2 separate regions of the Homo sapiens genome follow, and region 2 is linked to region 1. A link means that fine-mapping ties the variant in region 1 to the expression of a gene that starts in the linked region. Tissue or cell type: aorta. Region 1 holds a variant in brackets; the other region holds the start of a gene. All regions are shown on one strand. Distances are between the middles of the regions.

What was found. PIP is the estimated chance that this variant, and not a neighbour inherited with it, causes the effect.
Region 2: it holds the start of EFCC1, and the variant in region 1 is the best candidate, but not a certain one, in a credible set for the expression of EFCC1 in aorta (GTEx, PIP 0.53).

The regions. Positions count from the first base shown.
Region 1 is chr3:128,570,003-128,575,367 of GRCh38, forward strand. LINC01565 (long intergenic non-protein coding RNA 1565) reads right to left here. Exons shown (of 3, transcript NR_125802.1): 2 at 5,264-5,365; 3 at 1,998-4,301. Among named protein-coding and RNA genes, the nearest start is that of LINC01565, 3.4 kb to the right of the region's middle. The variant C/T (reference allele first, on the strand shown) is at 2,758.
Region 2 is chr3:128,999,012-129,004,376 of GRCh38, forward strand. EFCC1 (EF-hand and coiled-coil domain containing 1) reads left to right here and starts at 2,293. Exons shown (of 8, transcript NM_001377500.1): 1 at 2,293-3,313; 2 at 4,783-5,066. The coding sequence starts at 2,618. It also overlaps a transcript of CFAP92 not described here.

The sequences.
Region 1 (5,365 bases):
GATCTATTGAGGCCAGCAGTTGGCCAGCCTAGGCAACAAAGTGAGACCCCATCTCTACAAAAATAAGTAAATAAATAGGCATGGTGGTGCACACCTGTGGCCTCCAGCGACTCGGGAGGCCGAGGCGGAAGGATGGCTTGAGCTCAGGAAGTTGAGGCTGCAGCAAGCCATGACTACACCACTACACTCCAGCCTAGGGGCAGATCAAGACCCTGTCTTTAAATAAATAAATAAATAGAAGTGGAGAAGAACCCGACAGGTGCCTCGTGGGGACTCGGATTTGGAAATAGATTGAGATGCTATCTGCAGTCAGCCAGCACAGCCTTGAAGCCTCCTGATAACCAGGGCGACCAGAGAGTAACTTCAGACAGCAGAGAACTACACAGGCAGGTGGAAGCAACCTGAAGAGGAGGTTGGACCACCGCCTCTGCAGCTGGGGCCAATGGGCATGGTCTCCAGACTGCTAGTTCACCAAGAGTTTTTAACTTTAGGAAGTCATTTTCCATGATTATTTGCACCTGCAAAATTCCAGTCCCAATGTTCAGTTTGGTCATGGCCTGAGAGCCATTCGGTGCGACTTTAATGGCCACAGGATACTAAGGAAAGAAAGGTGGATGTCAGATAGAAAGGACGCATTCATGACAAGAGAAGGGCAATGGCACTTGGATGTGTTTTAAGACACTGAGGCTTTGCAGGAGTTCAAACAGAGAAAAGGAGGAGGAAAAGGGAGTTGTCACAGTGGTTACAGAATGTGCCAGATTCCACGGAAGCTGCACTGAGCCCATCAGCACCACATTCCTGTTTCAAGCAAGACAGCATTATTCATTGGCATAGACTAATACCATTCACTTGAATTTTATTCATCTTGTAATTTTGGTTGGATTTAACTTATCTTTCATTTTCATCTTGTTGTAGGAGTAGACAGTACCAATGTTTAGCTTTAGGTGAGCACAGATTGATTGAACGATTGATTGATTGGTTGGCTGACTTTTTAGAGACAGAGTCTTGCTCTGTGGCCCAGGCTGGAGTGCAATGGCTTGGTCTCAGCTTACTGCAGCCTCAACCTCCTAGGCTCAAGCAATCCTCCCACCTCAGCCTCCCAAAGTGCTGGGATTACAGGTAGGAGCTACCATGCCTGGCCTCATTTTATATAATGTTAAAATAAGCCAAAGTCACAATAGCCAAAAGGTGGGAGAAACTCAAGTGTCCATCTACAGATGAATGGATAAATGAATGCAGCCTGTCCCACAATGGACTATTACACAGCCTTAAAAAGGAAGGAGGTTCTGAGCTCTGCTGCCACATCGGTGAACCTGGAGGACATGATGCTGAGTGAAATAAGCCAGGCACACAAAGTCAAGTCCTGCATGATTCTATTCATATAAGATCCCCAGCAGTCACATTCACAGACACAGAGAAGTAGAAGGTGGTTGCCGGGGGCTGGAGGAGGGAGAATGGGGAGTTAGTGTTTAATGGGTGCAGAATTTCAGTTTGGGACAATGAAAAACATTCTGGAGATGAACAGTGGTGAGTGTTGCACAGCAATATGATTGTATCTCATGCCAATGAACTCTATACTTTAAAATGGTTATGGTGGTAAATTTTATTGTTTTGTTTTGTTTTGTTTTGTTTTGTTTTGTTTGAGATGGAGTCTCACTTTTTCGCCCAGGCTCGAATGCAGTGGTGCGATCTCGGCTCACTGCTGCCTCCACCTCCCAGGTTCAACCGATTCTCCTGCCTCAGCCTCCTGAGTAGCTGGGACTACAGGTGTGTGCAGCCACACCCGGCTATTTTTTTGTATTTTTAGTAGAGACAGGGTTTCACCATGTTGGCCAGGATTGTCTGGATCTCCTGACCTCGTGATCCGCCCGCCTCGGCCTCCCAAAGTGCTGGGATTACAGGCGTGAGCCACCACGCCCAGCAATTTTATTGTTATATGTATTTCACCACAATAAAAATAGATATATAAAATAAAGGTATGAAATCAACACTGGGAATGGGTAAAGTTTTTTTCTGTTAAAAGACCTTGGGTGGTCTCAGGCCAAGACAACCGGAACCCTCAGACTCATCCTTCCTCCGAGGAGTCCCCTCCGGGGACTACAGAGAAGACTGCTCTCCCGGCAGCGTCATCTCGGCTGACCTCGCTGGAAAGGCAGCTCTCTGTGGCCAGGTCAAGAGGGCTGGGGAGACCAGGAATCATCCACCCATGATGTTCCTAAAACCTGCCTGCGCATGGCAGCCACCGGGACGGCCTGTCAAAATGAAGATGCCTGGGCCCTGCCCCGGATACTGAGTCACAGTCTCTAAGGGTAAGGAGGCCTGGAATCTACACTTTTAACAAGCTCCCCAGGCACCTCTGAATACCCAACCTGCTAGGGTATCAGGCCGGGCAGCGCAGAGGCCTGGAGGAGCCCAGGTATACAATCCATAGAGCCGACTTCACTACTGCCTGCCACTGCCTGCTGTGTGACTGTGAGCATGTCATTCAGCCTCTCTGGGTCTCAGTTTCAGACCTATGGGTTTGGCACAAAAGCGCTTATGTTGGGAAGGGCTTGTTTTGAGGGTTAGCAATAAGATACATAAAGTGCCTGGTGCATAACAGGTGCTGAATAAATGGTGGCTGCAGTTAGGATTCGAGAGCTGGGAGAGACCCACCCAGCTGGCACTGGCTGAGAGGTGAGCAAGCCGCTCCCGCACAGAGGGCTCCATCCCAAGTGCACATGTGTTTCCTGCAGGGGGAGCACCTTTAACCAGGGA[C/T]GTGGATGTGGCTTGTCACTTTAGCTCTGAAAAATGGGACAGAAGTTGTTGAGGGGAAATCCCTTCTCACAGAAAGCAGAATGGTGCTTTGGGAACCCCCCCTCCTTTTCCCTCTGCCACCCCCAATCTAGAGCTGACTGCACCTCACTCTTATCATCCAAAAGCCTTGCCCCTGACCGCAGGCTAGCCCAGGAAGAGAAGTAAGGCTCACCTGCCAAATCTTGCTGTGTGGCTTTGAGAAAACCACATAACCTCTCTGAGCCTGAGGTCCTTATCTCTCACTAGGGGGAGGAGGGTGACACCCATTCATTCAGGGCATACTGACTGTGATAGACACGTCCTCATCCTCACAGGCCGACAGTCCAGTGGGAAGATCAGGCTTTAGTGAAACCACTGCAAATATCTCATTGCAAAACAAAATAGCTGCCTTAGAAAGTTGTGATCAGGTGGTTTTTCCGACTTTTTTTTTTTTTTTAGCAGCAGAACCCTTCATTCAAATGAAGCCTTACCCAGGACTGGGTCATGGAAAATAGCTGAAAGCAAAGTTGCTCAGAGGCTCTGTGGCTGTCACCAGAGAGCCCGACGGCTTCAAGGAACACAGCTGGAAACCAGAGCTTGATGTCTGGGAGGGAGGGGTGAGGAAAGGCCCACAGTGGCACAGCAGAGTCCTGGCACATTGTGGGCACTGGAGAAGCCATCCCTGCCTGAGCTCGTCATCTCTCTCTCTCTCTCTCACCATGTCAAATGGTAGTGGGTGGGTACAGGGCCCAAACTCGGTCCCCAGACCCCCGAGTGTCTCTGGTGCCAGAGACCCCACAATGCCTAGAAGCTTCCAACCACCCTGGCCCAGGGTGCCTAGGGGCTGAGAGTCTGGGGGTCCCTGGAGGCGGGAGACGCTGAGTCTAGGCAGGCTCGTGCTGGAAACCAGCTCACTGCAGCGGACCACTATCTGATGGAGCGCTTCCTTCATCAGTGCTAATATCCATGTAGCGAAACAATGAAAGGGTTTCCTATCAGTTCCAAATAGGACGTGAAAAACTCTCAGTGCTAAGAGTAGAGGATGCTAGAATAGGGCAATGGGAAACGCCTGAGTCACCGGAGGGCCTCTTTGATTCCGACAGCCCAATCACTGAAAAGGAAAAAGAGAGAGAGAGTGGTTCATTAATGATCCGAGGGAGGGGACAGGAAAGACAGGCCCTTCACAGGGGACCTCCCCAGAGAGCTGAGAGCGGGAGAAGCCCAGCAGTGGGGACACTACCCAGAGAAAGAAACAGAGCTGAGGCTCCACCCGTGCACCCGCCCCACCCAGCCACCCAGCACGTCCACGAGCCACGCGCCAAGGGCAGTTCTGGTTTCCACAGATAAGCATTTAAGGAAGAATGTTCAGGAGTCCTGCTGTATTCTTCACCAGACTTGTCTCAGAGCAGCTGCTCACCCAGGAGCTCCATGGCCACAGGGATGCCCAGGACAGGGACGACTGCTTGCCCACTGCCGTGCTCTGGGGCTCTGGGCAGTCCCTCGGCCTCACCCACTGCTCAGATTTTCTGCAGGAAAAATGGGAGAGCCACCCTTTCAAAGAGTGACCCGGGCCCGGTTCCTCCTCAAAGCCTTTCGGAATGAATCTCCCAGTTCCCCACTGACTGGACATAGAACCTCTGCTCTTTCCTTCTCTAAGGCTGTGCTAGTCCATTATTCATTAAAAGACAAAATGAGGCCGGGTGCAGTGGATCACGCCTGTAATCCCAGCACTTTGGGAGGCCAAGGCGGGCGGATCATGAGGTCAGGAGATCGAGAACATCCTGGCTAACACGGTGAAACCCCATCTCTACTAAAAATACAAAAACAAAATTAGCCGGCTGTGGTGGCGGGTGCCTGTAGTCCCAGCTACTCAGGAGGCTGAGGCAGGAGAATGGCGTGAACCCGGGAGGTGGAGCTTGCAGTGAGCCGAGATCGTGCCACTGCACTCCAGCCTGGGCGACAGAGAGAGACTCTGTCTCAAAAAAAAAAAGACAAAATAATTGTCTTTTAATGACTTTAAAAGACATTGAGGTGGGTGTGGGGCTCATGCCTGTAATCCCAGCAATTTGGGACGCCGAGGTGGGAGGATCACTTGAGCCCAGGAGTTTCAGACCAGCCCAGGCAACGTAGCAAGACCCCATCTCTACAAAAATGTTTAAAACCTAACCAGGAATGGCAGTGCATGCCTGTAGTCCCAGCTACTCAGGAGGCTGAGGTGGGAGGATTGCTTTAGCCCAGGAGGTTGAGGCTGCAGTGAGCTATGATAGCACCACTGCACTCCAATCGGAGTGGCAGAGTGAGACCCCAACTCAAAATAAAATTAAAAGACAAGAGGCCAGGCGCAGTGGCTCATGCCTGTAATCCCAGCACTTTAGGAGACTGAGGTGAGCAGATCGTGAGGTCAGTAGTTCAAGACCCGCCTGGCCAACATGGTGAAACCCCATCTCTACTAAAAATACAAAAATTAGCTGGGCATGGAGGCGCATACCTGTAATCCCAGCTACTCAGGAGGCTGAGGCAGGAGAATTGCTTGAACCGGGAGGCAGAGGTTTCAGTGAGCCAAGATCATGCCACTGCATTCCAGCCTGGG
Region 2 (5,365 bases), 430 kb after region 1:
AATGGTGGATGATTTTTGCTTTTTAGCATTTTCCCGGACCTTTAAAAGACACTTTAAACAATATACTATTTGAAATGGCTCAAACAATACTGAACTGACTTCAGAAAATCATTTCTTTGCCACAGCCCTGACTCTCTCCCACACAGACACACGCCCATCCCCCCAGCTCATACAAAAGAACGCAAGGAGACCTCTGAGTTTGCTCACTTTGAACCTTAAACAAAAACCTTGTGGATGCAACCAGAATTATTTCAGAGGTGCCTGGTAACACCGCAGGGCAGACAGACAGGCCTGACAGCAAACCATTATCAACCCTTACTTCCCTGAGCTGTAGGGGAGTGGAGGCCGGCAACGGCTCCCAGCAAGACATTTAAAAGCTTTCTTTTCAATATTGACTGGCCCAGGAAAGCTACTGTTCAAAGGATTCCTTCACCAGCTGCAGGGATGGGGGGTGGGGAGGGTGTTGCACTCTTGCCTGGGCTACCAGCTCTTAGGGCTGACATGAAATAAAATCAGGTTCTTTTTTTTTTTTTTTTTTTTTTTTTGAGACGGAGTCTCGCTCTGTCGCCCAGGCTGGAGTGCAATGGCAGGATCTCAGCTTACTGCAACCTCCGCCTCCCAGGTTCAAGCGATTCATCTGCCTCAGCCTCCCAAGTAACTGGGATTACAGGCGCCTGCCACCACGCCCAGCTAACTTTTGGTATTTTTAGTAGAGATGGGGGTGGTTCACTATGTTGTCCAGGCTGTTCTCGAACTCTTGACCTCAGGCAATCCACCCGCCTCGGCCTCCCAAAGTGGTGGGATTACAGGCGTGAGCCACCGCGACCGGCCAAGAAAAAGAAACACATGAGAACATCTTAACAAAAGGGAAATACTGCAGTGTCTCCCATCTGCAGAAAGAACCACTGAATCCACTTATGAATCCCTCCATCTTCTTCTGTGCACTCACATACACATGTCCTAGTAGAAAATACTTAGTATTGTTTTGTGTGTTTTTGTTCTTGTTATGTAAGCATCAGTGTTGTGCATAATCAGCTTGTGGCTTGCTGTGTCCGCTCATCCTCGTTTGCTGAGTCCTAGCTGATTTGATGGACACCAGGTTGTCTCCAGTTTCTCACTGTAATAAACAATGATGCAGTGAACATCCTGTGCACAGTGGCTTTCGAAGGTAGAAGCCAAGAAGTGGACGTGATGTAAAAACTTTGTCAAATTGCCATTACTTTTATAATTAAAAACAAACCTAAAAGAATATGTCCAAAATGCTTGGGGAGAAGCCTCTAACTCCTTCCCAGCAGATATGTACTCTGGGCAAAGCCTTCAAGAACAAGTACGAATTTGCCAAATGGACAACGTGCTGATTCTGGGATACTGTGGCAGAGGAGACAGAATGCTATCGCTTTTCAAACGGCAAGATTTTACATTTAAACTCACAGAGTTATCCACAAGGCAAGATTCTGTCTCTGTCATAGCTAGGAACAGCTGAAGAGTCTGCCTCTTGCTCCAACATGGCTGGGTACCGTGGCTGGATAACCGTTCCCGGTGCAGGTAACAGGTGGACAATATCACAATATCACTGCACCCCTCTCGTGAAAAAGAAAGGGAACACAGTCTAGCACTCACCAGAGAAGCAGGTTTTTCTTCATCTTCCAGAAATGTGTTCTAAAACACCAGAAAAAAACATCAGCCAATCATCGACCTGTTAACCTAACCCCAGCTCAAGAGATGGAACTCGGATCCCATTGCCAAGTCAGCACCGGCAGGCACAAAGGTGGCAGGGCCGGGAGACACCACTTTCCCGAGAGTCCTATCCCCACCCCCAACAGGGATCGGGAGAGAGCAGTTAGCACAGGGCTCGTCTCAGATGGGCTTCTCACCAGCGGGGTGCCCCTAACCTAGACCCCTTGCCTCTCCAAGCCTGTTTCCCTCTCTTTCCCAGTTACTACTTGGGGCTCTTTGCACGGTCTATGGTGGCACAAGAAGTGGGTTCGGAAACCCAGTAGCTGAATTGAAGCGGAGGGGAGGCTTTTCCGCACCTACGGCTACAGGGCGGCGAGAGCAGGCTTGCCAGGCAACCCTCGAAAGGCCTTCCGGGAAGAGGGGGAAGAGTGACGCTTGGGTGTGGGGGCACATCCCCAGCAACCGGACGAGGCCGCCACCCCCAAGGCCCTCCTGGGCTTCGGATCCCGCGCCAACCCCTCGCCCAGGTCTCGGAGCGAACTCTCCGCGCCAGGCGGGCGGGGCGGAGGGAGGAGGGAGTTGAGAGTGGACGGCCGGGAGTGGGAGGAAAAGCGCAGACGCCAGGAACGCCCCGTGAGTGAGGAGAGGAGAGCGTGGGAGTCACGCGGAGAAGCCAGACCCAGACGCCGACCGGGCACTGGTGGCGCTGCCGGGGTCCCGGGGGTTCCTGGACCCCCTACCCCAGGCCCCTCCAAAGCAACTGGGGTAAACCAGACGCACTGTGAGGCCAGCGCAGCTGCTGGACACGGTCCCCGGCGCCGCTCCAACCAGACCGCGACCGCTAAGCCCCTCCTTTCGAGAAACTCTGGGGCCGCCCCTGGAAGTGGCGGGGCGAAGGGACCGGAGGAGGGACCGGAGGAGCGAGGCGCGCGGCGCAGCGATGGAGCCGGTCAGCACGGGCGCGGAGGCCGGCATGGAGGGCGCGGGAGGTGACCCGTACCGGCGACCTGCGCGGCGCACGCAGTGGCTGCTGAGCGCCCTGGCGCACCACTACGGGCTGGACCGCGGCGTGGAGAACGAGATCGTGGTGCTGGCCACCGGCCTGGACCAGTACCTGCAGGAGGTCTTCCACCACCTGGACTGCCGCGGCGCCGGCCGTCTGCCCCGCGCCGACTTCCGAGCGCTCTGCGCTGTGCTGGGGCTGCGCGCGGAGGGGGCCACCACGGCCGGGCAGGCAGCAGGTGACGGGAACTCCAGAGATGTGACCCCCGGGGATGCGGCCGCTGAGTTGGCCACGGACGGGGACTCAGATACCGATGAAGAGGCGCGCCTGGCGCTGCGCGCCGAGCCGCCGGAGCTCACCTTCCGCCAGTTCCACGCGCGCCTCTGTGGCTACTTCGGCACCCGTGCGGGGCCCCGGCTGCCCCGCGGCGCTCTCAGCGAGCACATCGAGACGCAGATCCGCCTGCGCCGTCCGCGCCGCCGCCGCCGCCCGCCCTGCGCGCCTGGCCCCGACAGCGGTCCTGACTGTGAGCGCGTTGCGCGGCTGGAGGAGGAGAATAGCAGCTTGCGCGAGTTGGTGGAGGACCTGCGCGCCGCGCTGCAGAGCAGTGATGCGCGCTGCCTAGCACTGCAGGTGCGCGCCGGCCACGAAGGGAGGGTGGTAACGCCCGGGAGAGGGCTCGAACTAAAAGCTGGCTGGCTGCGGAGCCCGACAGGACAGAGTCAGAGGAAGGGGAGACAGAGGGCAGCCCCACACCATCCCACTCCGCATCAGCACACTTGCATCTTGCCCCTGTTCCTCCCCATTCCACTCCAGTCCCCAACCCTATTCTTACCACCTATTCCATTCCTGAAAACCCCAATCACACTCAAACAACCATACCCCACTTTTCTGCTCCACCGCCACATCATCGCGTCTTGCCCCTTTAACCTAGGAATTGCACCTGTCTGGGTAGTCTCACATATTCCCTTTCAACAAGCATCTTTCTCTCTCCTTCCTGCCAGGCTTCTGGGAGGTTTAGGAGACAGAAGTGTGAAGAAGGCCCTGTCCTCACCTTTAGGGATATCCCTGCCTCCTGGGGTAGACTGACAGCTCCTTCTGTCAATCAGCAAAGACTTATGGGGCTCCCTGTGGGAGAAACAGAGACAAGTGAGAAACAGACAATGTGGCTCACACTGTGGATCAGGCACTCACGGGCCACCAAGTGCCTGCGGGAACCAGACCCGCTCTGGGCTATTGAGAAGAAACCATGGGGTGAGATAGGGACCCAGCCTTAGCATCTGGGAGCCGTCGACAAACACTTAAGCACTGTGCCAGCCGAGCACCAAGGGCAGTGCTGGGCCGCAGGGGTCAGAGGAGGAAAGGAACAGCCCCTACCCCAGGCGACAACAGGCCAGGAAGAAACTGACATTATATGACCCCGCCTTAGCTCAGGACACTGCAGAGTGCAGGGAAGTGGCAAGGTGTGGTTTTCAGTGTCAGTGTGCATGGAAGCCAGGGTGGAGGCGGGAAACTACTCCTCTGATGTGGAATCCCAAGTAACGTACTGGGAGCCATGGGATGCGCCTGAACGGTCTTCCGGCATCTCTCATGCTTGGTATTTATTGAGCACCTACTATGTGCCAGGTTTGTTTTAGGCTCTGGGAACACACCAGTAAAGACAGATAGAAACCACCCTCAAAAGCCTCTAGTGAGCAGGCACGGGGAGGGCTGGAAATGCCACTGGGGGGAGTCTAGGAGATGAGGAACCGCCACCCGGCAGGCTGAACGCCGCCAATACAGTAGGCCGAGAAGAGTCGCGAGGTTGGTACTATAGAGGGAACAGAATACAGGCGTCGTGTCTCAGTTTCCTTCAGTGAAAAAACGTTGGGGGGTGGGGGATGAGGAGGAATCAGAGCTTGGGCCTCCCTGGGGATGTGGCGAGGGTTAAAGGAGCTTGGACGCACCGGACCTAAGGGCCTGGCACCCGGAAGCAGACGGCGCAAGAAACGTGCTCAAGCGCTTCTGGGTGCAGAGGCATGGGGCCGCCGTCGTGGCGGGCGTTCGTCTGGTGCATCTGGCTGGGGCACTTACCCCCTGCCCCTGCTGCCCTGTCCCCGCAGGTCGGACTCTGGAAGAGCCAGGCGAGCACCCACGAGATGGGGCACGGCGGGCCGGAGGCTGCGGTGCGGGAGCTGCGTCAGGCGCAGGGCGCCCTGGCTGCGGCGGAGGCCCGCGCTGGGCGGCTGCGCCGTGGCCAGGCCGAGGTGCGGCGGCGCGCGGAGGAGGCCCGGCAGGTGGTGCTGCGCAGCCTGCACCGCGTGCGAGAGCTGGAGGCGCTGGCGCAACAGGTGCCCGGCTTGCAGCGCTGGGTGCGGCGGCTGGAGGCGGAGCTGCAACGCTACAGGTGAGCGGGGGCGCGTGCCCTGGGCCCAAGTTCCCCAATTCGGCTCCCATTTTCCCAAACTTCGGGTGTGCAATCCCCCTCCCACGCGCTCTCGTGTTCCGCAGTTTCTCCATGCGTTTATTCATGTATTCTTTCATTCCTTTGTCAGTTCTCCATTTCTTAAGTTATAAGTCTGCTCCATTGCTTGCTCTGCAACCATCTGCCCACCCATCCATTTATCCATCCATCTGTCCATCCATTCACCCACCCCACACACCCACCCATCCATCCATCCATTTGTCCATTCACTCACCCCCCCC